Linked DNA regions of Homo sapiens. The protein of the gene in region 2 purifies or fractionates together with the protein of the main gene of each other region. This does not show direct contact. Each region holds a gene or a part of one and is shown on either strand. Other genes may lie near its edges.

Region 1 (3,500 bases), on a different chromosome or scaffold from region 2:
TATTTCTCCCACTTTTAGCACAGACTGGCCACTCAGCTCTCCTAGCCCAATGGATGCACCATCAGTTAAAATACGCAGAATGGATCCTTTCGCTACAAAAGAACATATTGAAATCATAGCTCCTTCACCACAAAGAAGCAGGTCTTTTTCAGTAGGGATTTCCTGTGACCAGACAAGTTCATCTGAGAGCCAGTTCTCACCACTGGAATTCTCAGGAATGGACCATGAGGACATCAGTGAGTCAGTGGATGCAGCATACAACCTCCAGGACAGTTGCCTTACAGACTGTGATGTGGAAGATGGGACTATGGATGGCAATGATGAGGGGCACTCCTTTGAACTTTGTCCTTCTGAAGCTTCTCCTTATGTAAGGTCAAGGGAGAGAACCTCCTCTTCAATAGTATTTGAAGATTCTGGCTGTGATAATGCTTCCAGTAAAGAAGAGCCGAAAACTAATCGATTGCATATTGGCAACCATTGTGCTAATAAACTAACTGCTTTCAAGCCCACCAGTAGCAAATCTTCTTCTGAAGCTACATTGTCTATTTCTCCTCCAAGACCAACCACTTTAAGTTTAGATCTCACTAAAAACACCACAGAAAAACTCCAGCCCAGTTCACCAAAGGTGTATCTTTACATTCAAATGCAGCTGTGCAGAAAAGAAAACCTCAAAGACTGGATGAATGGACGATGTACCATAGAGGAGAGAGAGAGGAGCGTGTGTCTGCACATCTTCCTGCAGATCGCAGAGGCAGTGGAGTTTCTTCACAGTAAAGGACTGATGCACAGGGACCTCAAGGTCTGTATTTGTGGAGCATCACCCTTGGGGTTTCAATCTGACGTTTTGTGATTCAGAGCAGTACTTGCAGTACTCTGAAGGATCCTTAAGAGTTGGGGAGAGTAAAAGCATCTGAGAGCAGAGGTCTGAGAAAGTAGCCTCGAAGGGGCCTGCTGCAAGAATAAGAAGTCTTATGTCTGAAAACTTTAGGCAAACCATGCATTCATTGTCTTCAGTAATGTGTTTGTGTTCATTTTACTGTAAAAGGTATTCTCAGTAGTCCAGGTGAGGGAAAAAAAAGAAAAAAGAATCTTTAGGTAAAATCCACCATGAGCAGATATAGCCTGTTTTTTTGTTTGTTTGTTTGTTTTTGTTTTTCTATGGTTTTGAGTAACCCTGACACCAATACCTCCAGGGCTCTGAAGCAGCATGGTGAAAGGGATCCGAATGGAAGGAGAGACATGGGTTCCTTCATTAGCCAGCTTGAATTGGGGCAAATCTCCACACTTTTGCTTCTTTTTCTGAACTGTTTAGACTTTGGGGGAAGGGGTAAGAAGCCGAATGGGGAAAGGTAGCAAATAGTTAACAGATGACTGTTTACAGCTCTAAAACCTTGGATTCTATTTTCAATATATTCAGTAGTGAATTTTGCAGTAATATAATATGCAAAATTATTAAAGAGTCTTACTAAAACATGACATTTCCGTAGTAGTGTTTCTAAAAATAAGTACATGGAACTTTTATTTAACTAATTTCCCACATTCCATATACTCTTAGCCATCACCAGTAGATGTGGAGTGAATGTATAAATACTTTTCTGATGAAAGTAGCTTAAAGTCTTGATAGATGTGGATCCATTTTAAGTCTTTTCAGACTTAAAACAGACTTGTTTCAGGCACAAAAGTAGCTATTTGGACACAAGTTATTTTCTTCTAAAATCAGCAGTAGGTTTTCAAATTCTTGGGTATATTTTAAGAGTTTTAGGGTAACAAGAATAGGAATTAGAAATAATTCTTATTTTTTAATATAATTGTTATTTAGTCATATAAATCATTATGCTTCAGTGATTTTGACGTGGGCCCAAACTGATTGCCAAGAATTGTTCTGCACTGAATGAAAAGTTCAGAGATGAATTATTTGGTTGGATTGGAGAAGACAGTTTACAGGAGACCACACACCCCTAATTTGAGAGAATACTAGCAGTTAGGTTTGAATATAGTAAACGCTTATCACTAGGTGGGAAACAGCTAGCTGAAATACACATTCTTCTTGTACTTAACACTTGCTGTACACACAAATGCCAACTTGAAAGACAATGAATCATGTTTTCACTAATAATGAATATTCTTCTGCTAATTTTATAATGTAAATGAGATATTGGTAAATATCCATTTAATGCTACAATGTTGTCTAAAGATTTTTCTGTAATTGTCTATGCACCAGAAAAATTGCAAGAAGAAAGTTAATATTCCTGTTAGTTTTTCTAGAAATCAGAAAGTTTTATTCCTTTCTAAATAGAAGACAATTCCTTTTAAAGATTTCTAGTGCGCCACCCCCAACCAAAAAAAAAAAAAAAGCCAAGATTTTTGTTCCTGGGTGAAAAAGCTGTACATTTTGCTACGTTCTGACCTAAATCTTTGAGCTCAATGTTAAACCTTCTAGGCCCTCTCCCCCTGTTATATTTTGGTCACATTTTTGTCTTCAGGACTTTGGCTCCTGCCTCTTCAGACTAACTTCTAGTCTTCTATTTTCTCCACTCTGAACTTTTCTCAGTTCCTCTTGATATACACTGTTCTGACAGAAACCTGGTCCTTCTTCATTATTCTCATCACACCTGGATTATTTATTCTGTGGTTTCTATGGGGTATGAACCATATCTGTTTCTTTTACCTGTTATAGTCTCAGTACAATGCCTGAATGTTCTAGATGGTCATACCATTTATTTTGAATTTTATTTTCTTTGCACTCAAAAGTGTTTATACTGACTTAACCAGAAAAGGAAATCTGTTGGCCCACATGGCTAAACTGTTGAGAATTCAGGTAAAGCTTTAGCTGAGATCAAGTGATTTAGCCAGAACCTGGTTTCTGTCCTCCCCATTTCTTGTTTCTATTTAAGTCTTTTGGAGTTGGTGGGGTAGAGGGTGGAGAGAAAAGTATTGCTTTTTCCCACTATCAGAAATTTTATTCTACTTAAACCAAGGACACCTACCCATCCCTCAACAATCCCTAGCCAGGCAATGGGATTCCATGGATTGGCGTAAGCAACTTTTAGAGCATGGATGCCTTCCACACTAACCGTGGGGTTTTGCTGCACAGTCAGCAAGAAGGAAGTTCCCAAAGTAAAGTCAAGATACTTCTGCTGGAAGCACAGGGAGATAGATACTGGAGAGCCAAAAAGCTTGTCTATTATAGGGTTCAGTAAATAACAACTGCCATCAGATGTTGGGAGTTGGGAAGAAAGATGACATTTAATGCAGGATAGTCTATTATTGCCTCTGGTACAAAGTTATTTATTGGAGAGCTGCAGATTATTACCATAGATCTTATACACAATAACTTCATGCTTCCAAGTCAAAATCGTTTAATGGTATTTTAGAGTTTGGGAATGCAATGTTATTTTCTGGCAGTATTTGAAACATGATGAAATTCAATTTCATGAGCTAAATGGCTTCCTTTTTCCTCATTTCAAGGGCTATGAATGGTGGTCATATTACCCGCAGAG
Region 2 (4,272 bases):
AAGGGTCCTCTAGTCTAGGTGTAGTGGCTCATGCCTGTAATCCCAGCACTTTGGGAGGGTGAGGCAGGTGGATCACTTGAGGTCAGGAGTTCAAGACCAGCCTGGTCAATATGGTGAAAACCTGTCTCTACTAAAAATACAAAAATGAGCCAGGCATGGTGGCGGGTGCCTGTAGTCCCAGCTACTTGGGAGGCTGAGGCAGGAGAATTGCTTGAACCTGGGAGGCAGAGGTTGCAGTGAGCTGAGATCGTGCCACTGTACTCCAGCCTGAGTGACAGAGTGAGGCTTTGTCTCAAAAATAAATAAAATAAAACAAAATGTTCCTCTAATTTTGATGAGGGTTTTCTTGGACATTTTCTCTTAGGATCCCACTTATTTCTTCCTTCCTTTCTTCCTTCCTCCCTTCCATCATTCATTCATTCATTCATTCATTCATCCAACAAATATTTGAGAGATTAATATGAGTTAGTATTAGACATACATAAATGAATACTGCACCATGTTCTCTTTTCCCTTGAACAGTTTATGTTCTATCTCTGCTTGCCTCTAAAGGTCTCCCAGTTTGTATCTCACTCCCAGCAATGTTTTATGCTGAATTAATCTCTTCTGAGCGGGGATCTGTGAGTGGTGGTGATCAAGTTTCTCTAGTCTCAGGAAATATAGGGTGGGTCATCTATGCATAAAAGATATAGAAAGAGTAAAATAGAAAATAAGGTTAAGAATTAATTAGATAGCCAAATTGGAACAATACTCCAATTATCAGAAAATATTTTAGTGTGTTTTCTTCTTTAGAGTAGAGAACCTAGGAACAAGAGAACCTGCAAGAGAGGCTTGGAACTTTTGAGAACAAGCCCTCCTCATCTGCTTCAGTATCGAGATGTTAAAATGGCTTAGTCCTCTGATGGGCTTCCTGTTAGATTTAGTGAGCGCCACATGGCGTTAATAAAAAACAGAATTGCCATAAAGATAGAACATGTGTGTTCCTGGAATAGTATAGCAGGCAATAAGTAAGTCAGCAATGCTTCTGCAGTTTATGCAGGGTGACTGCTCAGCAGTAATTGCTTCAGTTCAAGCATGAGCAGAATGTGTTAGCTGCAGCCCTGGCTTCATAGTTGTAAGCAATTTCTGAGGGTGGAAGAAGAGATGGGAAAGAATTTATGATCTAACCGTTATCTGGGTCTGTGTGTTTATTCAGCTCTGTGCACCTAGAGGAGGCTGGCATTCTACGGGCTGGTCCAGGAGGGCCTGATCAGCAGTGGCCAACAGTATCCAGTGCAACACCAGGTAAAGAGCTGGGGTCTCTCCATTCTTTCTTGGTTTCTGGAAAGTGATCAGATGACCTACTTTTGTAAGATCAGGAATGTTGATGGCTCTTTTTCTTTTATATTTTTGTTATTCCCTTTTTTCCATACATACATGATTTCCTTACATATATGATTATTTTGATTTTATACCTAATGCTCTTCAGGAGTTGAAAAAGGATAACAAGGAAAGTGTGTGTGCACGCATGTGTGCATGTGTGTGTGTGTGTATGAAGTTTTTGGGGTTTGTTTGTTTGTTTAAATCAGGTACCTTTCAAATGCTTAGGTCATCCAAGCCATGCAGAGAAGATCTGGTGGCCTTATGCACAGAGATGACACTGTTAACAAAGATCTTTTGGTTGAAGACTATGGAAACCCACCCAAAGTAGTAAGGAAAGAAAGAGAAAAAGAAGGAAAGAAAGAAAAAGGAAGGAAGGAAGGAAGATGGTTTCTCATGGAAGTGGAAAATTATCGGAACCAAGGCATTGTTTTGAGTTCAAGTCAAAGTCAATCTGCTTCTCTCTGCACATCAACAACATTCTGCAGACTGACTTTTAGTGCCTTGGCATGCATGTTGCCAAACATGACCGCCTCACAATTTCTTAGTTTAGAGGGATAATAGGGACTATTTCCTAATCCAAACTTTCAGGAAAGAGAACCTGCTAAGTTGTGTAAAAAACCTAATGGCTGGGTGAGTATAGGAAAATTGCTTAAACTCACATTTGCTTGGTATCCTTATTCTTGCCCTATCACTAAAGCAGGGTCATGTAATAGAAATATGGCTTTGGAGGCCCATCGCTGTGGCAGTTTTCAGAAAGGGAAGATTAAGTGTTGGTAGAGACCACAAATTGTGTCTACTCTAATCCTCTATTAATAGAACATCATGATGATAATAGTAGTTACTAATTATTAAGCCATAATATGCCTAGACACTGTGCCAAGTACATTGTATGTGTGGTCTCATTTATTCCTTAAGTCAAGCTTGCAAGGGATTTATTACATCTATTCTACATATGAGAAACTGGAGAGGCAGAGAGATTAAGAAATGTACCCAAGTTCACGTAGCTTGTAAGTGGCAGAGGGTAGGATTCAAACCCAGATGTGTTTAGTTTCAAATCCAAGTATATCTAGCACTTATATTCATAACATGGCTGGCTTGCAATAATCCATTCAAATTCAAATACATATCTACATACATAACAGATGACAGAATGTGTGTGTAAAAGGTTTTTTCCCAAAAATAATCAGATGCCTTTCAAATTATTAAGTAACATGCAGCTAAGGGCCCATTTTTACTGGCAACTTTAAGGGCATTCGTTGATTCTAATCAGCCAGGATTTGCTATTTATGGATGTTGCACAATTCAACTAAAAGTCACATTTGTCCAAAAAATATACGAGTTGAAGCAATTCATTAGAGAGCTAATATTGCCAGATTGCAAGGGGAAAAACATAAAATAGTTCATTGACAAATCTGTACCCTCAGTGCCAACGATGGAGTGAAGAAATGATGGAGGAGGAAGTGGTTTTAGACTGCCAAGTGTTGCAGGATGTGGAGGCATCTGGGAAGGTGAGAACTTCCCAAAGAAGCCACGTGAAATCATGACTTTCTACCTTGCCTTTATTTCAGAGTTTTTCTTGCTCTTATGGAGGCATTGTAGGTCGACCTGGTAAGCCACAAACTAACTTTGAATACATTCTCCCTCCCATTGGTGATGCTGGTTGGTGTGTATTCCTAGGCAAATGTGGAATAGGAACCATGTATTGATATTTCATACATCTGGCCAAGTCCCTCTTTCAGATTCAAAAAATGTTGAGAACCTATCTTTTTTACAGAGATAGAGAAGGGGATCTCCCTTGTTCCCTTTCTTACTGTCCCAGCCCCTCTTGTATAACCCATTTTATCCAGAACTGTGCCTGGCTGCTGATGCATGAGTCACAGTCTTCATGGACTGTGCTGGATAGAGCTTACATCTTCCAACTACTCCATGGCAACCTAATCATACTTTTCAATACATACCTCTGCATCAGTGGTGTAAAGTTAAAGGGATTCTCTGCCTTCTCCCTGTCCTTCTGGTACTTTTAGGTTTTTAGGACTCAATATATGTTCTGCACTGCTTGGAGGGAATATGGCATAAAGATTAAGATTATGATTTAGAGTCAGATTTGAGTTGAATTCTAATCCCAAGCTTACTTGCTGGGTGAGCATAGACAAACTGCCTGAATTCATATTTTCTTAATTACCCTTTCTGTAAATTGGGTGTAGTAATAATAATAACACCTATTTTATTGAGTTACCATGAGAACTAAAGGAGAAAAAAAGAACTGAGCATAGTGCTTGACATATAGTTAATAAATGTCTAATCTTTTTTTTTTGAGACAGAGTCTCGCTCTGTCCCCCAGGCTGGAGTCCAGTGGCACGATATCGGCTCACAGCAACCTCTGCCTCCTGGGTTCAAGTGATTCTCCTGCCTCAGCCTCCTGAGTAGCTGAGACTACAGGCGTGTGCCACCAAGCCTGGCTAATTTTTTGTGTTTTTAGTAAAGACGGGGTTTCACCGTGTTAGCCAGGATTGTCTCAATCTCCTGACCTCGTAATCCGCCTGCCTCGGTCTCCCAAAGTGTTGGGATTACAGGCGTGAGCCACCGCGCCTGGCCTAATCTTCTTACTCTTTTTTCTTTCTGGACTACTTTTCTGCAATCTATGATATAGTGTTGGCTGATAGCCTGGTGGCCAGAATTCAGTAGTTCTCATTTGCAGGCCCAGATATAGACCCTCTGAGGTTATCTGGGTCTATATAATCCAGTCACCCCAACTGTTCCCCTGGAAATGGAGTGAGGAGGATTTATTAGTTGCTGCCTGAAGAAAAGGGAAATGCTCCAAAAAATTTGGTTGTTTCCAGACTCAAATAGAGCCTGCCTTTCATTGATTCTGTTGCCCTTAAAGCTTCACGGTGAAGATGCAGTTGCTTC
Region 3 (3,630 bases), on a different chromosome or scaffold from region 2:
GGTGACATGGGGGATGCAGAAGCCAGGTCCTCAGCCATGGAAGGTCTGGGGAAGGGGCACTGCTGTCCTGATTGGGACGATGGAGGCCTGGAGGTGTCTGGATGGTAGAAGTCTTTGAGGCACAGAAAGCTGCCTTAGCAGGGAGGTGTAAGGGTTCCTGGGAGGAAGGTGGAGAGCATGATCCTGAGGAACAGGGAGTCTTGCATCACGGCAATGGAGGGACTCTGATTCTAAGGGATAAGGATGCCTGAGGTTTTTCCAGAGAGCTATGGGGTTCCATGGGCAGGCTCTGAGCCTGTGCCCGCCACTAACCCCACTGAAGCCCGTCCCTTCAGGCTGATGCTGGTGGAGGAGGAGCTGCGCCGGGACCACCCCGCCATGGCTGAGCCGCTGCCAGAACCCAAGAAGAGGCTGCTCGACGCTCAGGTGGAAATTACAATGTCATTTATCTTCTCCGTGTCCCATCCCCATCCATCCCACTGTCTTTCGTGCACTCACTACACCAGCCACCTAGCCCCATCACCATCTGTCTCTCATAGTCTGCTGTTTGTCCACTGGCTGCTCCTGGCAGCCCCCTAGTGACCCCATCTTCATCCCATCGTCTGTGCCTTTGTCACTCCTGGCAGCGTCAGCCCAACTCCTGTGCCTTCCCATCCAGTCTTCCCACTCCTCTCTGCATCTCAGGACCTTCTCTACCAGAACCTTGGTCTTTCTGCCCCTAGACCCCACCTAGTTCCAAGAACCCCTGCCCCTTCTTTGCTCACTCCTATTCAAGCCACGTTGTTCAGCTTCCTCTGCGCTCTTGGGCCAGAGGGCTAGAAGCTGCCGTTTTCTGGAATAGAGCACAGGGCAGTATGATCTGTAGTTTCTCCAGGCCCTGGCCGGTACCCTGAAAACTTGGGGACCCATCACCTCTGTTCTCTTGGCTCCCTAATTTTCCTGTCTCCTTGGCAGCTCCTGCATAGCTTCCTCTTCCTGACTCTTCAGATCTTGAAGGCCTTCCATCCTGTAACCTCCCTTTGCCCTCAGTATTTAAGTCCAGCCTCCCTCTGGCCTCCCTCCCACTCTGGCCCTCAGACCTTCCCAGCTGCCTGCTGCCCAGCCTCTCTTCTCACAAGCCAGCTTCTAGGACCTCCCTTCTGCACCCTTACCCCTTGCTTTCCCAAAATTCTGCTCATTTTCCTACCCATACTCCTCTTTGCTCTGACTGCTAGGCTCCCCCCGCCTGCCATCCCCCCACCAAGGCTCCTGACCCCATGACCCCACTCTCTCCCACTGCAGCTCCTCATCAGGTAATTCTCCTGGTTCCGCTTTGGCCACGGGCGGAGGACACAGGGGGAGGTGACTCCGGACCACTGCAGGTTGGTCGTGAAGCCCACTCCCTCCAACACCTCCGGAGCCTCTCCCCTCTCACTGCTGCCCTCCACACCCAGAGAACCTCCACAGACTCCAGCCCTCCGACACCTGCACAGATCCATCTCCCAAGACACCACCCAAAGAGAGCATTTGCTGCTGCTTCCCAGAACTGTCCAACAATACCTTAGCAACACCAAGAGTTGGGCCCTAGATGGGCCCAGCACATTCACAGGTCACACCCACTTCCCTGCAAAACCCACCCCCTCCCAGCCTCCTCCTGACTCTAAGCCCTCCTCTTCCTCTACCTCTCCAGTGTATGTCTGTCACCCCCCATTTCACCAGAGCGTCCTTAGGGGCTGGGGGTGGGTTTGTTAATGGGGTGGAGGCAATGATGGGTTGGAGGATCTTGGCTATAGGGGCTGTGCTGACTGCAGCAGGTAGGTTGGGTTTCCCTCTTCCTTCCCTAATCTTGGTTCTCTACCCTCCTTTCCACTCCTCACCTGATTCTCTCTCTTCCTCCTCCTTATATCTGTGAGGCAGAAGGCATCTGAAGCTCATATTAGCCCCCATTGGGTGGGAATTAGGAGTGGGTAGTTAACTCAGGGAGACTTGAGATACCCTGGAAAAAATGCTATTGAGATGTCCTGACATTAGGCAGGGTGGATGGAACAAGAAGGAGCAAGAAAGGAACCTCAGGCAGATGTTAGGACATGGACTTGATCATGTGGCCTGGGAGTTTAGAAATGGGGAGAGACATCCTCCTAGATCAGATCGTGGGCTCAGTAGGCATGTTGATTCCCAGGGAGAGGTGCCAGGAACAGCATGGTAAAGAATGTACTCTTCACAGCTCACATCCCCAGGTTGCTGATGCCACTCACTCCCCCTCTCCTGCCATCGAGTGGCCTTGCCGGACACATCACCCTACCTAAAAAGCCAGTAAATGAGAACCTGTCAGCTATAGCCATCATTTCTGAGATGCGATTTTCTTTGGGATTGAGCTGCAGTGGGCAGTGGCTCCTTACACTGTAATTTTAATTCTCTGCCTGCCCAGCCTCTCTGTCAAAGTAGCTGGTGATCTATAAAGATGCTAAAAGGCACCAGGGGACTTTGCCATTTAAAGGACTCCTGCAGTGAATTCTTTTGTAAAATGAATAATGGCACCCTAATTTATCCACTTTCTAAATTTGGGTCCATGGGGGTGTCCAGGGCATGCTTATGTGCTGTCACCAGCAGACAAACAGAGGGAATGGAATCTGGGGGTTCCTTCCCTGCTCTCCCGCCATACTCAGGATACCCTACCATAAGTGATTTCCTCTCACTGACTTGCAGAAAATGTGTGAGATACCCAGCAAGCTAAGAAGGCAGTTTTGCTGGGTATCTCATACCCAAGGCTGGGGTTTGGGTGATCTGAGAGGTTAGCTCCTTGATCCTAGGATGGAAGGGAGAGCTTATATAGAAGCTTTTACTTGGAAGGTTTTGTATCCTAAGGTCAGACATAGCTATATTACCAAGCCTAAATGCCATGTGGCCCAGGAAATAATTTGGACATTTGTTCTAAACCACTTGTGGTAGGTATTGGTCTCTCTGCAACTCAGCCATTAATTAGAAATTAGTTTTGAGCCTGAATTTTAAAAAGCCAAGTGTTGCCCCCAGCCCACACACACACACACGGACATGTACAGTACAAACCCCAGATAATTACAACAGCCAAAGAGAGAAGGAAGTGAATTTCCCAACCAGAAGCGTAGGGAAATTCAGATGGCTTTCTTTTCTCCCAGCAGAGGAACAGAAGGCGGAGCTAAGGGCAGGAACCAGGAGTTGGTCAAGGAGCTATAGGAGGTGATGAGAGTAGAACCAGGGGTAGGAGCTGGTCTGGTACCCCTCACCCTCTAATTGGGAGCCCAGGGAGAAGGACTGAAAAGAAGATGGGAGTGGAAAAGAATAAAGCCAGTTTCTGCTTCCCAGGGATGCAGAGATTGGGGCATGCTGTGTCTGCAGAAGCTCCTAGTCATTTCCGCCATAATTGTGAGAGAGAGGGGCAGCCCTCCCACAAGATTTTTCCCTTCCCATATCACTTCCCTGAATCCCCTTCCTTTCCCCCCAGTACAGTTAAACCTCTCTCTAATTTGGAATGTTATATTTGAGAAGATGGCCACTGTGAATAAGTGACAAACGGAATGACAGTGTCTATTTAATGAAATGCATGTCTTCAAAATATATACAGAACTCGATGAACAAGGCTTTTTCCACTCCTCAGGGAGCATGCATTAATGA
Region 4 (4,272 bases), on a different chromosome or scaffold from region 2:
AAACTCCAACTGTAGAATTATTATTGCTGTTGGCTGGGCACAGTGGTTCACGCCTGTAATCCCAGCACTTTGGGAGGCCAAGCGGGTGGATCAAGAGGTCAGGAGATGGAGACCATCCTGGCCAACATGGTGAAATCCCATCTCTACTAAAAATACAAAAATAAGCCAGGCATGGTGGTGGGTGCCTGTAGTCCCAGCTACTCAGGAGACTGAGGCAGGAGAATCGCTTGAACCAGGGAGTCGGAGGTTGCAGTGAGACGAGATCGTACCACTGCACTCCAGCCTGGTGACAGAGCGAGACTACACCTCAGGAAAAAAAAAAAAAAGGAATTATTATTGCTGTCAATAACACATGAAAATCCATAGAGACAAAAGTAAATTCATGGTTGCCAAGGGCTGGAGAGAGAGGGGAATGAAAAGTGACTACCAATGGGTAAAGGGTATTTTTTGCGGGTGATGAAAATATTGGGGAAGTAGGTAGACCACTGAATCATACACATCAAAAGGGTAAATTTTACGGTATGCGAATTATACCTCAACAAAGCTGCTATTTCAAAATAAATAAATAAATAATGCATGAAGTCTGGAGAGCTCAGCTTACAGGGATGGTCCCCGGGACTCACGGGAATCTCGTTTGAGAATGGAGAGTGTCTATTTTCCTGGAGGGAGTGACTGAGGAAATATTCCAAGAATGGGTGGTGAAGCAAGGCCATGCCACAAATGGGTCCCCCGGGAGACAAGGTGTACTGACCTAGGTGGTCTGTGAAGGCCTGTGAGGAGATGTGAAGAAGCAAGGAGGGCCCTGGCAGAAACCCTGGGAATAAGGGGAAAGAAAGCCAGAGGACGGGACCAGGAGGGGAGGCGGGGTACCACGACAACATGCAGCCATCAAGTAAGAACAAGGATTCCAGCTCTGAGCTTCCACAAGGCAAATCTAAGCCAGGTTCCAGAAGGCAAGGACAAGGTCATTTTCCCAGGATAGAGAGATAGTGGGTTTCTCTTTCTACTGTTCTCCATGGGGAGAAGTAACAGAAAGAGCAAATGTTTTGAAAGTCCGACAGACCTGAATTTAATTCCCAGCCCCAACACTGTCTGGGTGGCTGTGGCCACATTGCTTAAGACTTTGGTCCTCAGTTTCCTTATCTAAAAAATATAATTAAAACCCACGTGGTAGGATTACTGTAAGGATAAAACATATTAAGCACATGAAGCACCAAGAACATTGTCTAACACATGCTAGGCATTCAATAAATGGTGGCTATTACTCTTGCTCTATTTTAAAATTATAACAAGGTAGATGTTATACCTCAATACAGCTTTTTTTCTTTAGAGAAAAATTAAAACATATATGGCTCCACAGATCACAGGACCAGAGCTGGGGGTAGAACAAGGTGCAAACAAATGCGAAAGTGCGAAAGTTTCCCAGCATACTTTTTGATGATGGGATTATTTTTGCTTTGGGAAACTAAAACTAATCCTGTCACTTAGACTATAATGTTAAAGCTCTTTCCTATTTTGATCAGTGTCTTAGGGAGCTACACAGAACTGTCCCCTCTATCTCCAAACCTGCAACATTTTGGCTATGAAAAATAAATAAGTTTATTTTCCAAACCCAAAGTTTACTTTTGAAGCAAAGTTTTATTTTCCAGCCCGTCCTCCTGTACTGGGAAGTTGGGTTTAGGTTTGGGGAATTCACGTTCAAAAGTGAGGAGACATTGGTTGCCCAGGTGGTGTTCTTCCTGCCCTCAATGGCCCTATTTTCAGGCCATGAAAGGACTTCAGGCCAGCGTGGCTTTGGACTTGAGGCCGAAGCCAGGCAGCCATGTGTGGTGGCAGTGAGGGGACAGCAGCATGGCAGGTGGACAGCTGCCAGGCGTCGGATACCCTGCATCCCCATGTCCTCACCCTCAGCTTGGAAACAGCAGCAGTGCCAGCAGTGCACATGGCTCCACCGTCCTGGGAGCCTACTGGCCACAGGCTCCTAGACTCTCTGGAGGGCAAAATACCAGGCCCATCTCAACCAATGGTTCACTTCCTCCCTGATTATTCTGGTATCAGCCAGACCACCTCAGACTCTGGTTTCTCTTTGTTTTACATTTTCACCTTTAAAATATTGAATAATGTCAGCCCTCCCACAACACCTCCAAAGTTGTTTGAAATGCTGTGAATGTTACTTCATGGCGTTGCTTTTCCAAACTCTGGTGCTCTGCTCGCTGATGGGGAGAATAAGAGTAGCTGATGTTTGAACAGCGATATACACTCATTCTCCTATTTGGATCCTCACAGCTGCCCTGCGAAGTGAATTGGCTAAGGATTATTATCTCCACTTTACAGACAAAAAAAAAAAAAGGGATTTGATTCCTTCTGAACTCTCAGAGAAAGAGATGAAGTCAAAGAATGTGACCCAAGACCCAAGTCATTTCTCTAGCCTACAGCCTTATTTATTCTTTAGCTATTTACTTTGTTACTTTTGTTAATGTCTTTGAAAGGTTTTAGCCCAACGTAGATTATTTTGGAAGAAAGAAAGGAATATAAATGACTGTACATGACACAATGGTTATAAAGTAAATAGAGCTTAATTGAGTACTCAAGTCAACATTTCTGCCCACAGGCAATATGGAGAAGAACATTCATTCACTGTCTAGATTTTGGCTTGGTTCTCTAAAGGACAGGAGACAAGATTATTTTATTTTCCTTTTAGCTAGGTTCAAGTGGGCAACACCAAGTGTAGCCGAGTGTATTAAAAGAAACCCCTGTTGGCAAATTGGCAGCTTGAATATTTCATGAAATTATCACAACACTATGTTCTGAAATGATGGCTTCCTCCAGGGAACTCAAAAGCCACATCTCTAAGCATGAGCCTGGCTCATGCCTCCGTCTTCAAGCTAGACCGAGTCAGCCTCAGAGGCCTTCCAGTTTCTCAGAGATGACTTGAAAGAGTATGAAACAAGTCAGCCAATGAACACTTCAAGGAAGATGGGAATGTCAGAGGCAGGTCCTAGTGATTCTCTTCCATGGGCTGAGTCTACCACCACTGCTGGGAATGTCTCCTGGGAGTAGGCCGGGGGTCCTAGGAGACCAACCCTGACATGGGAGCAGAAAGACGCCCTTGGTCGCCCAGCTCAGGTGGAGTCTGTGGCAGCCTGTCTCACAGTCTCTACCCTGGGGCTGATCTGTGTGTCTATACCCCAGCTACTGGTAATGCCAGCTGGTCCATGAAGAATCCCAGCAGCTCACCAGGGAAGTCCCACAGCACAGCCCGGCTTCCCATCCCCATCCCACTCTCGCAAAGGGGCTGAAACAAGCCTAGATTGGGGCCGAGAGGAAGTGAGCAAATAAAAAAGGCTTAGAGGCAGATCTGTTTGCAGACAAAATCGTGATCTGAATTTTGCAGGAGTTTCTTGTGGACATGTATGAACTTCTACTCTGTAGCCTAAGAAAGTGTTTTTAAACCTTTCCAATGATAGATTTCCCCCACCCCACCCTTCCAACTCCATTCCTAAATCTAACATCGCAGAAATTATTTTAAGGCAGTACAAAGGTGGAGGCAGGGGGAGGAAGAATAGAGAGGTTGAAAGATCTACCAAGCAAAATTTAGCCAGAAGCACTAACAATGCTCTCTCAGGGGGCCAGCACCAAGTGTGGTACAGGCAGGAGGATGAAGAGACTGAAGACCTTGTATTTAGTTACATCCCTGCCTCCATGAACCTTTAGGGGCCTCTGTTTTCTCAACTGGAAATGAGGATTGTCTCTAAGGTTCCTTTACCCATAAAATGTCCTGATCCTAGAAAGTAAATTCCCAAAGAGACATTACATTTATTCTATGTTTGACAAACCCTTTAACGAACCAGAGCCTAGCCCCTTGCCCCCTATACACACAGGGTATAGCACAAGAAGCCCATTTTAAAGTGAAGGTGTTTTGCAGAGAACTGTTCTGTGGGGTTTTGGGGAGGGGAGGGGCTGAGAGGTTTGGGTTTCTTGCCAGTTAACCCCCGCTTTCCTCACCCTCTGCTTCAGCCAGATGAACCCTTCCTCTAGTTCCCTCGGCTTCCAGGGAAGGAAGGGTCTATTTTCAACCTCGGTCCGACTCCTGAGCTCCAGGCCCAAACTTCTCTCCTACAGTCCCTACAATCCCAACTTAAATTCAGTTCAGCTCCACAAGGAGTAACTGACTACCCTGATGACCTTGTTCCCCAAACCCTCCCAGACACCCTAGGGAGTTGGGGCTCCTCTGGCTTCCCCTCACCTTCTGCATCTCAGCTCTCGGAGGCT
Region 5 (4,272 bases), on a different chromosome or scaffold from region 2:
AAAAATTGGAAATAATGTTGGTGCTGTATAGCTTGAAGGATTTCTGGCACAAGTTAAATGTTCTAGCTTAGAGATGTGCAGCTTGGAGAGGTTATTGGAAAACCCAATCCCGTTCTTTCCTAAATTCTTACCTCTTATCTGGTAATTTTATTAACTACATGAGCATGGTCTCTATTTCTGTTGTCTTAGTTATTCATTAACTCTGCCCCATTTTCACATTGGTGGAAAGCAGAGTGCAGGGTAAATGATTGTGTATTCTTTTTTTATGTGAACAGGACTTGAAAGAGGAGATTGATATTCGACTCTCCAGGGTTCAGGATATCAAGTATGAGCCCCAGCTCCTTGCAGATGATGATGCTAGACTACTACAACTGGAAACCCAGGGAAATCAAAGTATGTGGCAAGCTCTTGGAATGCTTCAGTGAGGAGTCCCACAAGTCCAGAATTCCTTTTCTCTCAGAGTTGTCAAAAGCTGCTGGCAAAGCCTTAGTTATTCCTGTTATTGGATATATGTTAGATGCAGAGCCCATTTATTAGCTTGCTGGAGTTTGGGGAATTTTTTTTTTCTTTTTTGAGATGGAGTTTCACTCTTGTTGCCCAGGCTGGAGTGCAATGGTGCAGTCTCAGCTCACTGCAACCTCCACCCCCTTGTTCAAGCAATTCTTCTACCTCAGCCTCCTGAGTAGCTGGGATTACAGGCATGCGCCACCACGCCTGGCTAATTTTGTGTTTTTACTAGAGACGGGGTTTCTCCATGTTGGTCAGGCTGGTCTCAAACTCCTGACCTCAGGTGATCCACCCACCTCAGCCTCCCAAAGTGTTGGGATTACAGGCATGAGCCACCACGCCCAGCCTGGGGAATATTTTTAGGGTTATGCCTAACACCAGTCTTTTCCTCAACAGGTTGCTACAACTATCTGTATAGGATGAAAGCTCTGGATGCCATTCGTACCTCTGGTAAGGGCTACCTGACAGGGTCCATTCTAGGATCCTGAAAGCCCACCTAGGGAACAGAGTAATGAACCCACTTTGTATGTTAGGATTTGTCCTTTCTGCACATCCCTGGCTAGTAGGAAATTCTAGAGTTTTGAAAGTACTAGATTAGAGATTTTGCTGAAGGAAATGATATAAGCAGGTTATTCTCCAAAGAGTCTGGGTGTTTTGTTTTTTAAAGTTCTTCTCTTGAGACCTTTAGTTTCATGAAGTAGATGATAGTAATTTGCTTGTTTTTCCACAAAGGACAGGTGGCACCTGCTTTTTCACTAAGCCCAAGATAGATTGTTCTTGAATTTTTTCCATTCTGTCAACACTTGTCATATATGCTTTATCTCTATGAAAACAGTTTATATCTTAAACCTAGGATGGATGAGTAAGCAGGATGGTAAAATGTGTGATGACACTATCATGTGTCATAGATGTAGCTTACAACTGTGGTGTTACCACCAAATGACCACTCAGGCACAGCTTTATACCTTTGGTCTCAATCAGAATCTCCCTCTAACTCAACTTGCTCATTTCATTAGACCTATTTCTTTTTATTTTTGAGACGGAGTCTTGCTCTGTTGCCCAGGCTGGAGTGCAGTAGCACGATCTTGGCTCACCACAACCTCCACCTCCTGGGTTCAAGCGGTTCTCCTGCCTCAGCCTCCCGAGTAGCTGGGATTACAGGTACCTACCACCATGCCTGGTTAATTTTTGTATTTTTAGTAGGGACAGGTTTTCACCATGTTGGCCAGGCTGGTCTCAAACTCCTGACCTCAGGTGATCTGCCTGCCCCGGCCTCCCAAATTGCTGTAATTACAGGCGTGAGCCACTGCGCCCAGCTTCATTAGACCTACTTCTAAGTTTGGGGAATTAACTAGAAAGACTAAAGAATGGGGCAGGCGCAGTGGCTCATGCCTGTAATCCCAACGCTTTGGGAGGGCGAGGCAGACAGATCACAGGAGGCCAGGAGTTCAAGACCAACCTAGCCAACAAGGTGAAACCCTTTTGTATTTTTGTCTCTACTAAAAATACAAAAATAAGCCTGGCATGGTGGTGCACATCTGTAATCCCAGCTAATCAGGAGGCTGAGACTAGAGAATTGCTCAAACCTAGGAGGTGGAGGTTGCAGTGAGCCAAGATCACTGCCACTGCACTCCAGCCCGGGTGACAGAGCGAGACTCCATCTCAAAAAAAAAGACTAAAGAATGAGAAGAGATATCATTGTGCTGTTTTCTCCACAGAGATCCCATTTCATTCTGAAGGCCGGCATCCCCGTTCCTTAATGGGCAAGAATTTCCGCTCCTACCTGCTGGATCTGCGAAACACTAGTACGCCTTTCAAGGGTGTACGCAAAGCACTCATTGATACCCTTTTGGATGGCTATGAAACAGCCCGCTATGGGACAGGGGTAAGCCAGTTTTTTCTTCGGGGCACTAAAGAGATCCCTCAGACTGAGAGATCCTCACTCTTCCTTTCTCTTTCCTAAGGTCTTTGGCCAGAATGAGTACCTACGCTATCAGGAGGCCCTGAGTGAGCTGGCCACTGCGTGAGTTTGGAGGGGAACGTGTCAGAGGGAGCTGGTACAGTAGTGTTGGACTGTTGCCACAGTGCAGTGACCTTCATAAAGCATATAAACAAAATCCATGATACCATAAGAGTTGTCAGGTTCTAGACTATTAGATCAGTCTCTTACATTAGAAAGCAGATGCGGCCGGGCACAGTGGTTCACGCCTATAATCCCAGCACTTTGGGAGGCCGAGGCGGGAGGATCATCTGAGGTTGGGAATCCGAGACCAGCCTGACCAACATGGAGAAACCCCGTTCTCTACTAAAAATACAAAATTAGCCGGGCGTGGTGGCGCATGCCTGTAATCCTAGCTTCTGGGGAGGCTGAGGCAGGAGAATCTCTTGAACCCGGGAGGCGGAGGTTGCGGTGAGCCAAGATCGTGCCATTATACTCCAGCCTGGGCAACAAAAGTGAAACTCTGTCTCAAAAAAAAAAAAGAAGAAAAGAAAGCAGATGCAACTATACAAGCTAGTAAAAGAAGTTTTTACTAGCATTTTTCTTGTGTGCATTTTTCTTGTCTTTTGTTTAGCCCAATAAAATGTCAAAATTGGTGTAGCCTAGCAAAGGGAATAGTTTTTCAGCACACACAGGGATTCCTTCTCTTCAGAGTCTCAGCGTCCCTTTTGTGTCTTGGCCCAATAAAAGTAAGAATTAAATAACATTGGGCCGGGCGCGGTGGCTCACGCCTGTAATCCCAGCACTTTGGGAGGCCGAGGCAGGCGAATCATGAGGTCAAGAGATCAAGACCATCCTAGCCAACAAGGTGAAACCCTGTCTCTACTAAAAATACAAAAATTAGCTGGGCATGGTGGTGCGTGCCTGTAATCTCAGCTACTCGGGTGGCTGAGGCAGGAGAATCGCTTGACCCCAGGAGGCAGAGGTTGCAGTGAGCTGAGATCACGCCACTGCACTCCAGCCTGGTGACAGAGCAAGACTCCATCTCAAAAAAAAAAAAAAAAAAAAAAAAAAAAAAAGAATTAAATAACATCTATTTTTGGCCGGGCGCGGTGGCTCACGCCTATAATCCCAGCACTTTGGGAGGCCGAGGAGGGTGGATCACAAGGTCAGGAGTTCAAGACCAGCCTGGCCAACATGGTGAAACCTCGTCTTTACTGAAAATACAAAAATTAGCTGGGCATGCTGGCGGGCTCCTGTAATACCAGCTACTCGGGAGGCTGAGGCAGAAATCACTTGAACCCGGGAGGTGGAGGTTGCAATGAGCCGATATCATGCCATTGCACTTCAGCTGGGGTGACAAGAGCATGACTGTCTCAAAAAAAAAATAAAAATTAAAAATTAAAAAAATCTATTTTTACTACCACTTAAAGTATTAGTAACCATGTCTGAAACAAAGGCCATCGCTATAGAGTCAGCTGTTGAGCATTTGTGTCACAGGAGAGGATTCATGGCTTTTGTTTGGGAATGTTTTTAATACACACTAAACATAGTCTCGTATTTTCATGCAAATGTTAAAATCAAAGTTCTTGGCGAGAAAGGAAAGCCAATCTAGAGTAAAAACTTAGGCCGGGCGCAGTGGCTCACACCTGTAATCCCAACACTGGGAGGCCGAGGCAGGTGGATCATCTAAGGTCAGGAGTTCAAGACCAGCTTAACCAACATGGTGAAACCCCATCTCTACAAAAATACAAAAATTAGCCGGGCATGATGATGTGCGCACCTGTAATGCCAGCCACTCAGGAAGGTGAGGCAGGAGAATCGCT
Region 6 (4,272 bases), on a different chromosome or scaffold from region 2:
TACCTGAAGTTCTTCAACTGCCAAAAGCACAGGTATGGAAAATGGAGTGTCTTCCTAGTTAACGAGAACAGAGATTCTGGGTGGTTTGTTGATCTGAGATGGTCCAGTACCTTTTTTTGTTTCGTTTTGTGAGACAGTACCTTTTCATTTTGAGGAGTTGCTTGCTAAATATCTTTTTTTTTGAGACGGAGTCCCTGTCACCCAGGCTGGAGTGTAATGGCGCAATCTCGGCTCACTGCAACCTCCGCTTCCCAGGTTCAAGCAATTCTCCAGCCTCAGTCTCCCGAGTAGCTGAGATTACAGGCACACAGCACCATGTCTGGCTAATTTTAGTATTTTTAGTGGAGACGGGGTTTCACCATATTGGCCAGGCTGGTCTCAAACTCCTGACCTCAGGTGATCTACCCGTCTTGGCCTCCCAAAGTGTGGGGATTACAGGTGTGAGCCTCTGCGCCTAGTGCTAGATATCTTTTGGTCCTCTAATATTTTGGGGGTTGGCCCTTGGCTTGTGACTTCATAAATACATCTTCATTTTTCTATAATTTAAACTAACAGGACAACATTTTCTGGGCAAAAAGAAAAATTCTGCTGGGATGGATACTTTGGGAGATGGGAATTCTTTCTTACTGCCCCTGTGGCTCAGCATGGCCAGCCGACCCAGAAAGATTTCTCTGAAGAATGTGGAGCTTCACTAGCCTTTTGGAAATGTGTCTGAACTATTTCTGTCTCCATCTGCTTTGTTTTTATTCCAGCCCTTTTTCTCTGAGCTGGTGGTTCTGGCTAACACTGACAGGGGTCGCTTGTTCCTGTGCAGTGGGGTGAGTTTGAGCCTCTGGTCTTGGGCAGTGTCCTCCTCCATCTCCTTATGTTTTCCTGTCTCATGTTAACTCCATTTCTGTCATGTCTTTGCAGCATCAAGTACATGGGTGTGTTCACGTACGTGCTCGTGCTGGGTGTTGCAGCTGTCCATGCCTGGCACCTGCTTGGAGACCAGACTTTGTCCAATGTAGGTGCTGATGTCCAGTGCTGCATGAGGCCGGCCTGTATGGGGCAGATGCAGATGTCACAGGGGGTACTTGGTGAAAAGACTCCAATCCTCAATGTTTTAGAAGCAGGCAGGCCTGGGCAGCCTCGCCTCTTGGCCTCTGCAGGTGCCTCTGTATGGGAGGCCAGAGTTTCTGTCACTAACTTTTTCTAAGCTCACAATGTCTAGAGGTGGGTACGCTTTTCCACGCAGTGGAACATGACTTTTCTTTGAATCTCTGGCAGGTCTGTGTGTTCTGTCACTTGCTCGCCCGAGCAGTGGCTTTGCTGGTCATCCCGGTCGTCCTGTACTTACTGTTCTTCTACGTCCACTTGATTCTAGTCTTCCGCTCTGGGCCCCACGACCAAATCATGTCCAGTGCCTTCCAGGCCAGCTTAGAGGTAAGTAAGCAGTGGGCATCGTGGCCACTGGAGAAGGAAGATGATAGTGGACCCAGAGTTTTCTTACAAACACATCAAGTGAACATTAGCACTTGAATCAAAACATGAAGAATCCACATCCATATTTCTTTTTTTGGTGGGGGGGATGGAGTCTTACTCTGTCACCCAAACTCCGCCTCCTGGCTTCAAGCGATTCTCCTACCTCAGCCTCCCAAGTAGCTGGTATTACAAGCACCTGCAACCACACCCAGCTAATTTTTTTGTTTTGTTGGTAGAGATGGGGTTTCACCATGTTGGTCAGTCTGGTCTGGAACTCCTGACCTCAAGTGATCCGCCTGCCTCGGCCTCTCAAAGTGCTGGGATTATAGGCGTGAGCCACCGCGCCTGGCAGCTGGGAGCATTTTAAAGTCAAGTCTTACAAACCCTGGGCAGTTTCACCCGCCTTAAGGACCACACTCAACTGTGACCTTCATTCCTATGAACCTCGCAGCAGTGGTAGAAGGTATCAGTAGAGGTGGTCAGGACTGTGGTTCCTGAAGTCAGCCAAGCCTGCCGACGGCCAGTGCTGTAGTGCTGTGTGTTTCAGCAAGTTGTTTGGCTCACCCTAGTCTTGGTTTTCTCATCTCTTAGACAGACATCATCATTGCTCTTACCTCATTGGATGCTTGTAAGGACTGAATAGGGTGCGCGTGGAAGGCTGAACTGAGTGCCTGGCCCAGAGGCAGCATTTGATCAGACTTAGTGCTCATTATGGTTCTATAATGTAACGTGATGTGATTAAATGGGAGATCATTACCACTGTTACAAGAATGGCCACCAGCCTAAACATCACCCCAGAGGGAGGAGTGGCCATCGGGAAGGCTGGCTTAGGGTCATTTTTCTTTCTGTCTCTCACTCATCAACCTTCTGCTTCTGTCTCAGGGAGGACTAGCTCGGATCACTCAGGGTCAGCCACTGGAGGTGGCCTTTGGGTCCCAGGTCACTCTGAGGAACGTCTTTGGGAAACCTGTGCCCTGCTGGCTTCATTCCCACCAGGACACCTACCCCATGATGTAAGGTGATGGTTTTACTTTGAAGATAATTAAATGCTTTATTTGCTCGTAGATTTGCTTATCTTAGCAACTTTCCCTTTCTTTGAGGAAGTTTGTTTGCAGGACAGAAAGAAGTTGAGCAGCCCGGGTGCTGATTGCCAGTGAGCTTCGTGGTTCCCGGGTGTTGCTGGAGGGACTTGGCGTGTGGCAGGGCCCAGGGTCGGCCCCAGCTCTGTGGCTGTGGCTGACCTCAGCACTGCCTGCCTGAATCATCTGATTTCGGCTCCTTGTCTGTGGTATCTTCATTTTCCCTGAAACCCCTTGCTAGGTTGTATTTGTTGAAATCTGCTTCCCTTTGCAGAAACTTTAGGAGAAAGGCGTGTGGGCCCGATCGATGACCCACTTCCAGATACGTTTCTTTCCCTTTCTTTTCTTTTTCTCATAAATAGACACAGGGTCTCACTATGTTGCCCAGGCTGGTCTCAAACTCCTGGGCTCAAGCAGTTATCCTACCTCAGCCTCCCAAAGTGCTCTGATTACAGGCCTGAGCCACCGCGCCTGGCCCAGATACATCTCTTTGTTGACTTCACACAGATATGAGAACGGCCGAGGCAGCTCCCACCAGCAACAGGTGACCTGTTACCCCTTCAAAGATGTCAATAACTGGTGGATTGTAAAGGATCCCAGGAGGTGAGTGCAGGTCCTGTGACTCCAGAGCAGAGCTCACCTCCTGGCCTGGCCAGGCGAGACCCTGGGATGCAGTCCTGGGCCCCCTTCTTTCCCTCCCTCACTGACTCTAGTCACCGTCATGGCCTTGAACACCAGCTCAGTGCTGAGTCCAAGGTCAGAGGAATAGATCATGAGACCCTCAGTGAGCAGCCTGCTCAGTAGCTGCTCTGAGAAGTTTCCAGGCGAGCCTCAATGCCCCGACCTGTGTCCCTCTCCCTTCCTCATAAAAACAAGAACCCCCCTCCTGCAAAAGTAGCATCATCTTGCACACATCCCAGCTAGAGGTGCCCCTTGCTCTCATTCCCATATCCAGTCCTGTGGATTCTGCCCCCAAACAAGGTCTCTAGCTGTCCCGGTCACTGTCTCCTGATGGTGTCCTCCCATTGCTGCCTGCCCAGCTCCAGCACCTGCAGCCCGAGTGGGCTTTTTCTTTTTTTTCTTCTTATTTTTTCGGGGGACAGAGTCCCACCCTGTTGCCCAGGCTGGAGTGCAGTGGTACGATCTCGGCTCACTGCAACCTCCGCTTCCCGGGTTCAAGTGATTCTCCTGCCTCAGCCTCCCGAGTAGATAAGATTACAGGCGCCCACCACCACATCCTGGTAATTTTTGTATTTTTAGTAGAGACGGGGTTTCACCATGTTGGCCAGGCTGGTCTTGAACTCCTGACATCAAGTGGTCCACCCAGCTCAGCCTCCCAAAGTGCTGGGATTGCAGGTGTGAGCCACCACGCCCGGCCCCCTCATACACTTTCATTGGTGGAATGCCCTTCAGAAGGATTCCTTGGCAGTCATGGTACATTTGTCACTGTAGTGTTTGTAGACAAATTCAGAGCAATGCAGGTGTGATGACCGCGGGTAGAATCACATTCGGAAAATGACCTTTGGTTTCAGAAAAGAGCCCAATTAATGTCTGTGCTTTGGTTTCCTGTGTTCACCTCATGTGAGGCACACATGGGTTGGGAGGCAGTCTCAGCCATGAGAATTCAGAGCTGTGCCCCTCCGGTGCAGCTGTTAGTTCGAGGGGACCAGGCTCTGTGTGGTCCCGACAGCACTGTGTCTTCCAGGCACCAGCTGGTGGTGAGCAGCCC
Region 7 (4,272 bases), on a different chromosome or scaffold from region 2:
GCCACCGAGCCTGGCCCCCCATTCATAATTTCTGAAAGAGAAGTTTACCTACCAAGTAGAGATCTCAGATAGTAACCGAAAACAAAAAGGAAAGCAGAGAGGAAAGAGTTGTAGGAAATATGTTTGCAGATTTTCCCAGCTTAGAGGAGTCAGTAGATACCATTTCAATCTTCTAATTATAAATAAGGAAATTTATATTGAAATTTGAAAAATTTTTTACATGTAATCACATGTTATTCAAAACAGGAAGCATGCTTTCTGAATCATTAAAGAGAATAATTAGAAAAATATATCCTGTATAGAAAAGATAGAAAATAATTTATACAGCATGGAAATCACCTTTACTTAAAAGATTGAAAGAACTTTTAAAATTGTCTTTACTTGGCATATTTCTTGCAAGAAATTTCTTCACAGTGTTTTCAGTCTTTTCTAAATTATCTTGACTTTTATTCTTACCTTACTGAATGTGTTAATCATGAATGGATAACGCATTATAACAAGTACCTTTTTAGGTACAAGATGATATTTTGATGGAAACTTACTCTTCTTGAACATGATGACATTGATGACCTAACACTGAACCATGTTTGCATAACTAAAATAAATCCCACTGGGACTTAGTATATTATTCTTTATAGATTTGATTTACTAGCATTTTAATATTTACAGCTATATAAAAAGATTTGTCTGAGGTTTTCTTTTATGTTTACTGTGGTAGGTTTTAGTGTCAGGGCTAGCACTGTGAAACAATTGAGAAACTCTCTATCTTTCACTTCTTCATATATTCATTGGTTGGGTTCTGGAGCCAGGAAAGGGGGAAGAAATTTTAGTTGTTCTTCTCCTACTTCACTCACCTAGGACTCTGACTAAAATCAATAGTACTATAATTAAATTATATAGTTTACTGCTTAGCTAGGTTTTTTGGGGGACTAGCTTGGGAACCAAATTACCATCTCAGGCCATTTTTTTCCTTTATGAAATATCCTTAGCAAATTCTAAATAATTAATTAAAAGATATGTATTAATTAATTAAAAGATTTCTGTGTATTTCTCTCTCCCATCTTCTTCTTTCACTGCCAGCATGATCAGGTGGCTGTGTATTATACCCTGGCAGCCACCCAGCTAGTGAATTCATTTTGGCTTCTGTTACCTGGTGTTTAATCTGAGTATTTTAAATGCTAAATCTTATTAGTAAACCTGTTGAAAGCTTGGCTCTAGAAACAAAGCCTAACTCATACACTTCTGGTGAGACTTTGATACAACTTTCTGTGTGGCAATTAGGCAATTCTTTACATCATCTGTTTTTTTTTTTTTTTTTGACCCAGCACTTCTGTTCATAGAAGATAAGCTGAAAGAAATCATTGCAGATATATGGGAAGATTTAGTTCCAGTGATGCACAGTTGAAGCATCTTTTATAAATGTAAAGATGTGTAAACAACTTGAATGCTCAGCAGTAGGGAATTAGTTAAATGAATATAGATAATTTAGTAATGGAACATTAAGTAACCATAGAATGTTACTGATAAATATATGTGTGACAGTGAAAGTTGTCTGTCATATATTAAGTGAAAAAAACATTTTACAAAACTTAAAGGCCCCATAAAATCCCATTTTGAAAAATAGGTTTGTAAATGCACGCACACAGCCTGGAATTACACATACTGAAGTAAAGGTAGTGGTGATCTCTTGGGGGCATGAGATTATGGGTAACTGTTTTCTTCTTTTCTGTTAGTGTTATCAGGTTTTCTGGAATGAACATATGTTACTACTGAAATAAGGAAAAAAATCACCCTTTTTTTTAAAAAACAAATGCCAGCACACATACAATATGTAGAAATTAAGAAGTAATGCATAACTAGAAAATCATTCCAAATAAAATGATATGAACATTGAGTTTTTAATTGTGTAGTGCCTACTATCTCTGGGGACACTAAGTCTTAAGCAGAGAAACCAAACCAAATGCAGATCTCCTAGAATCCTCATCTAGAAAGATCCAAGTCTGTTCTTATCACATCTATTTTCAAAAAAAATATTTTGCCCTCGTCATGCTTGAAAGGAGTTCTTTAACTTAAAAATTTTATGTGTTCTAATTATTTCTGTTGGGTTATTTGACAGACCGCCTGGACATTAGGGCAGCCCGGATTCTTCTGGATAATGACCATTACGCCATGGAAAAATTGAAGAAAAGAGTACTGGAATACTTGGCTGTCAGACAGCTCAAAAATAACCTGAAGGGCCCAATCCTATGCTTTGTTGGCCCTCCTGGAGTTGGTAAAACAAGTGTGGGAAGATCAGTGGCCAAGACTCTAGGTCGAGAGTTCCACAGGATTGCACTTGGAGGAGTATGTGATCAGTCTGACATTCGAGGACACAGGTAGAACACTTCTCTCAGTTTAATCTCTGATTCCTCTTTCTTTTTAATTGACTAGAGCTCCCTAAAAGCTTAGGCATAGCATACATCTATTTTCCTTAAAGGGCTATGTGTGGTACCTTGAATGAAAAGGACATTTACAAGAAGTATCAGCTAGCCTAGAGCCTCTAAGCGTAATGATAAACCCAAACTAACCTTGATTTGTATGACAGTGGATACTACTCTGTGCCTCAACTTTCCTGGAATCTCATTTGAATGTAATTATAAGTTATTTATGATTGGATATTATTATGTCTTTACACTCTTTTCAACCCAGTAGCATGCCATAAATAATGATCCCTAACTCTCAGAGTTAAAAAAAGTAACTGCAATAGGGAGGGCCAATAGGAGGAGGTGAGAAGTCTTTGATAACAAACTTGTTCTGATTGCAGTCTAAACTTCCTCTTATGAAGGTTGGTTTGTATTATGAATATGAGTAATAAGGATAAATGTTAGCATAATTATTAAGGCTTATTCTTGCATTTTGGACTCACTTTCTATAAAAAAACAATAAACTGTAAGAACTGTCCCTCTAGGCTGGGCACAGTGGCTCATGCCTGTAATCCTAACACTTTGGGAGGCTGAGGTGGGTGGATTGTTTGAGCCTAACAGTTTGAGACCAGCCGGGGCAACATAGGGAAACACTTTTGTCTCTACAAAATTTATATTTAAATTTTTTAATTTTAAATTTTAATTTTTGTCTCCACAAAAATTAAAAAATTATGCAGGCACAGTGGCATGCACCTGTGGTCCCAGCTACTCAGGAGGCTGAGATGGGAGAATCATTTAGGCCTGGGAAGGTCCAGGCTGCAGTAAGCCATGATTGTCCCACTGCACGCCAGCCTGGAGACAGAGACATTATCTCAAACAAACAAACAAACAAACAACAACAAAACTGTTTCTGATTAATCTGACATTATTAGAATCAGATTTGCATGTTGCATTCATTGTTCTCACTGGTCTCTTTGTTGATCTGATGGAAATTGCCTTGGGAAAGCATGAATTTACATTTCGTGGTTTAAGGGATTCATAGCAATTGTAAGTTGTGAGAAAACATACCTATAGTGTATGTGTTAAAGAACATGTTTAAATGTAGGAACCATGAACTGCTTATAAAAGAATATGATGCTTTTTTAATATCTTGTTTTCTATGTGCCTTATTCAAAGGGATCCCTATCCATAGACAGGGATGGGAAACTGTTTCAGAAACTTTTCTATAAGAAATGGTTATTTTTATTCTCTTTTATTTGCTCACTTAAAATTCTTACGCATTTAAAAAGTATCATTACTGGCCTTGTGTAGTAGCTCATGCCTGTAATCCCAGCACTTTGGGAGGCCAAGGCAGGCAGTTGCTTGAGCTCAGGAGTTCAAGAACAGCCTGGGCAACTTGGTGACACCCCATCTCTAAAAAAATAATAATAATAAATTTTAAAAAAGACTCATCACAAGATTTTAGTAAATAAACAATGAGGCGTGCAGATCAGAGTAGAGAATTGATTTGGGTGATTTCTTCTGGCAATTTCAAAAGATATTTTTGTTGCCTAGACTTCTTATTCTTGCATGTACCACTAGAGGCTATAGTTTGCTTTCGTAAAGGAATTGGCATTTCTCTTGGACCAAACTCAAAGAAGCTGCGTCTAGGGCCTAAATCTTCTAATTTTAGCTACAGAGTAAGTATTTGATGGCATTTAGAGAGTGAGTTCGTGGAATTAATGCTATGTGAAATTGACATCATAAGCACGTGACATGTAGGTAATTTGTTCTTATTTCTTTTCACATTGGTATTGATTATTTGATAAGGCTTGGAAAGCACTTATTCAATACCTGACACACAGTGAGCATTCACTAAAAATTAGCTTTA

Evidence for each region.
Region 1: the proteins of PCDHA4 (region 2) and EIF2AK3 purify together in Homo sapiens (affinity purification with mass spectrometry; 2 studies listed by BioGRID and IntAct, with this or other methods). This does not show direct contact.
Region 3: the proteins of PCDHA4 (region 2) and SYNGAP1 purify together in Homo sapiens (co-immunoprecipitation; one large-scale study listed by IntAct). This does not show direct contact.
Region 4: the proteins of PCDHA4 (region 2) and CACNA1C purify together in Homo sapiens (co-immunoprecipitation; one large-scale study listed by IntAct). This does not show direct contact.
Region 5: the proteins of PCDHA4 (region 2) and LTAP1 purify together in Homo sapiens (affinity purification with mass spectrometry; one large-scale study listed by BioGRID and IntAct). This does not show direct contact.
Region 6: the proteins of PCDHA4 (region 2) and POMT1 purify together in Homo sapiens (affinity purification with mass spectrometry; 2 studies listed by BioGRID and IntAct, with this or other methods). This does not show direct contact.
Region 7: the proteins of PCDHA4 (region 2) and LONP2 purify together in Homo sapiens (affinity purification with mass spectrometry; 2 studies listed by BioGRID and IntAct, with this or other methods). This does not show direct contact.

What each region holds. Positions count from the first base shown.
Region 1 is NC_000002.12:88,571,965-88,575,464, reverse strand, and holds part of EIF2AK3 (eukaryotic translation initiation factor 2-alpha kinase 3 isoform 1 precursor), read left to right. Parts: exon of another isoform or gene 1-18; coding exon 19-799; exon of another isoform or gene 800-951; intron 952-3,500. UniProt on the Homo sapiens protein: Metabolic-stress sensing protein kinase that phosphorylates the alpha subunit of eukaryotic translation initiation factor 2 (EIF2S1/eIF-2-alpha) in response to various stress, such as unfolded protein response (UPR).
Region 2 is NC_000005.10:140,981,280-140,985,551, forward strand, and holds part of PCDHA4 (protocadherin alpha-4 isoform 1 precursor), read left to right. Parts: intron 1-1,195; coding exon 1,196-1,284; intron 1,285-4,272. Other genes in the region: PCDHA1 (protocadherin alpha-1 isoform 1 precursor), read left to right, coding at 1,196-1,284; PCDHA2 (protocadherin alpha-2 isoform 1 precursor), read left to right, coding at 1,196-1,284; PCDHA3 (protocadherin alpha-3 isoform 1 precursor), read left to right, coding at 1,196-1,284; PCDHA5 (protocadherin alpha-5 isoform 1 precursor), read left to right, coding at 1,196-1,284; PCDHA6 (protocadherin alpha-6 isoform 1 precursor), read left to right, coding at 1,196-1,284; PCDHA7 (protocadherin alpha-7 isoform 1 precursor), read left to right, coding at 1,196-1,284; PCDHA8 (protocadherin alpha-8 isoform 1 precursor), read left to right, coding at 1,196-1,284; PCDHA9 (protocadherin alpha-9 isoform 1 precursor), read left to right, coding at 1,196-1,284; PCDHA10 (protocadherin alpha-10 isoform 1 precursor), read left to right, coding at 1,196-1,284; PCDHA11 (protocadherin alpha-11 isoform 1 precursor), read left to right, coding at 1,196-1,284; and 4 more. UniProt on the Homo sapiens protein: Calcium-dependent cell-adhesion protein involved in cells self-recognition and non-self discrimination. Thereby, it is involved in the establishment and maintenance of specific neuronal connections in the brain.
Region 3 is NC_000006.12:33,447,508-33,451,137, forward strand, and holds part of SYNGAP1 (ras/Rap GTPase-activating protein SynGAP), read left to right. Parts: intron 1-322; coding exon of another isoform or gene 323-335; coding exon 336-426; coding exon of another isoform or gene 427-429; intron 430-1,281; coding exon of another isoform or gene 1,282-1,296; exon of another isoform or gene 1,297-3,630. UniProt on the Homo sapiens protein: Major constituent of the PSD essential for postsynaptic signaling. Inhibitory regulator of the Ras-cAMP pathway.
Region 4 is NC_000012.12:2,059,208-2,063,479, reverse strand, and holds part of CACNA1C (voltage-dependent L-type calcium channel subunit alpha-1C), read right to left. Parts: intron 1-4,272. UniProt on the Homo sapiens protein: Pore-forming, alpha-1C subunit of the voltage-gated calcium channel that gives rise to L-type calcium currents. Mediates influx of calcium ions into the cytoplasm, and thereby triggers calcium release from the sarcoplasm.
Region 5 is NC_000001.11:154,210,578-154,214,849, reverse strand, and holds part of LTAP1 (protein C1orf43), read left to right. Parts: intron 1-275; coding exon 276-393; intron 394-903; coding exon 904-957; intron 958-2,225; coding exon 2,226-2,392; intron 2,393-2,471; coding exon 2,472-2,530; coding exon of another isoform or gene 2,531-2,534; exon of another isoform or gene 2,535-3,389; intron 3,390-4,272. UniProt on the Homo sapiens protein: General regulator of phagocytosis. Required to uptake Gram negative bacterium by macrophages.
Region 6 is NC_000009.12:131,508,991-131,513,262, forward strand, and holds part of POMT1 (protein O-mannosyl-transferase 1), read left to right. Parts: coding exon 1-32; intron 33-752; coding exon 753-818; intron 819-912; coding exon 913-1,006; coding exon of another isoform or gene 1,007-1,151; intron 1,152-1,269; coding exon 1,270-1,425; intron 1,426-2,346; coding exon 2,347-2,477; coding exon of another isoform or gene 2,478-2,482; intron 2,483-3,050; coding exon 3,051-3,146; intron 3,147-4,248; coding exon 4,249-4,272. UniProt on the Homo sapiens protein: Transfers mannosyl residues to the hydroxyl group of serine or threonine residues. Coexpression of both POMT1 and POMT2 is necessary for enzyme activity, expression of either POMT1 or POMT2 alone is insufficient.
Region 7 is NC_000016.10:48,267,900-48,272,171, forward strand, and holds part of LONP2 (lon protease homolog 2, peroxisomal), read left to right. Parts: intron 1-2,116; coding exon 2,117-2,375; intron 2,376-4,272. UniProt on the Homo sapiens protein: ATP-dependent serine protease that mediates the selective degradation of misfolded and unassembled polypeptides in the peroxisomal matrix.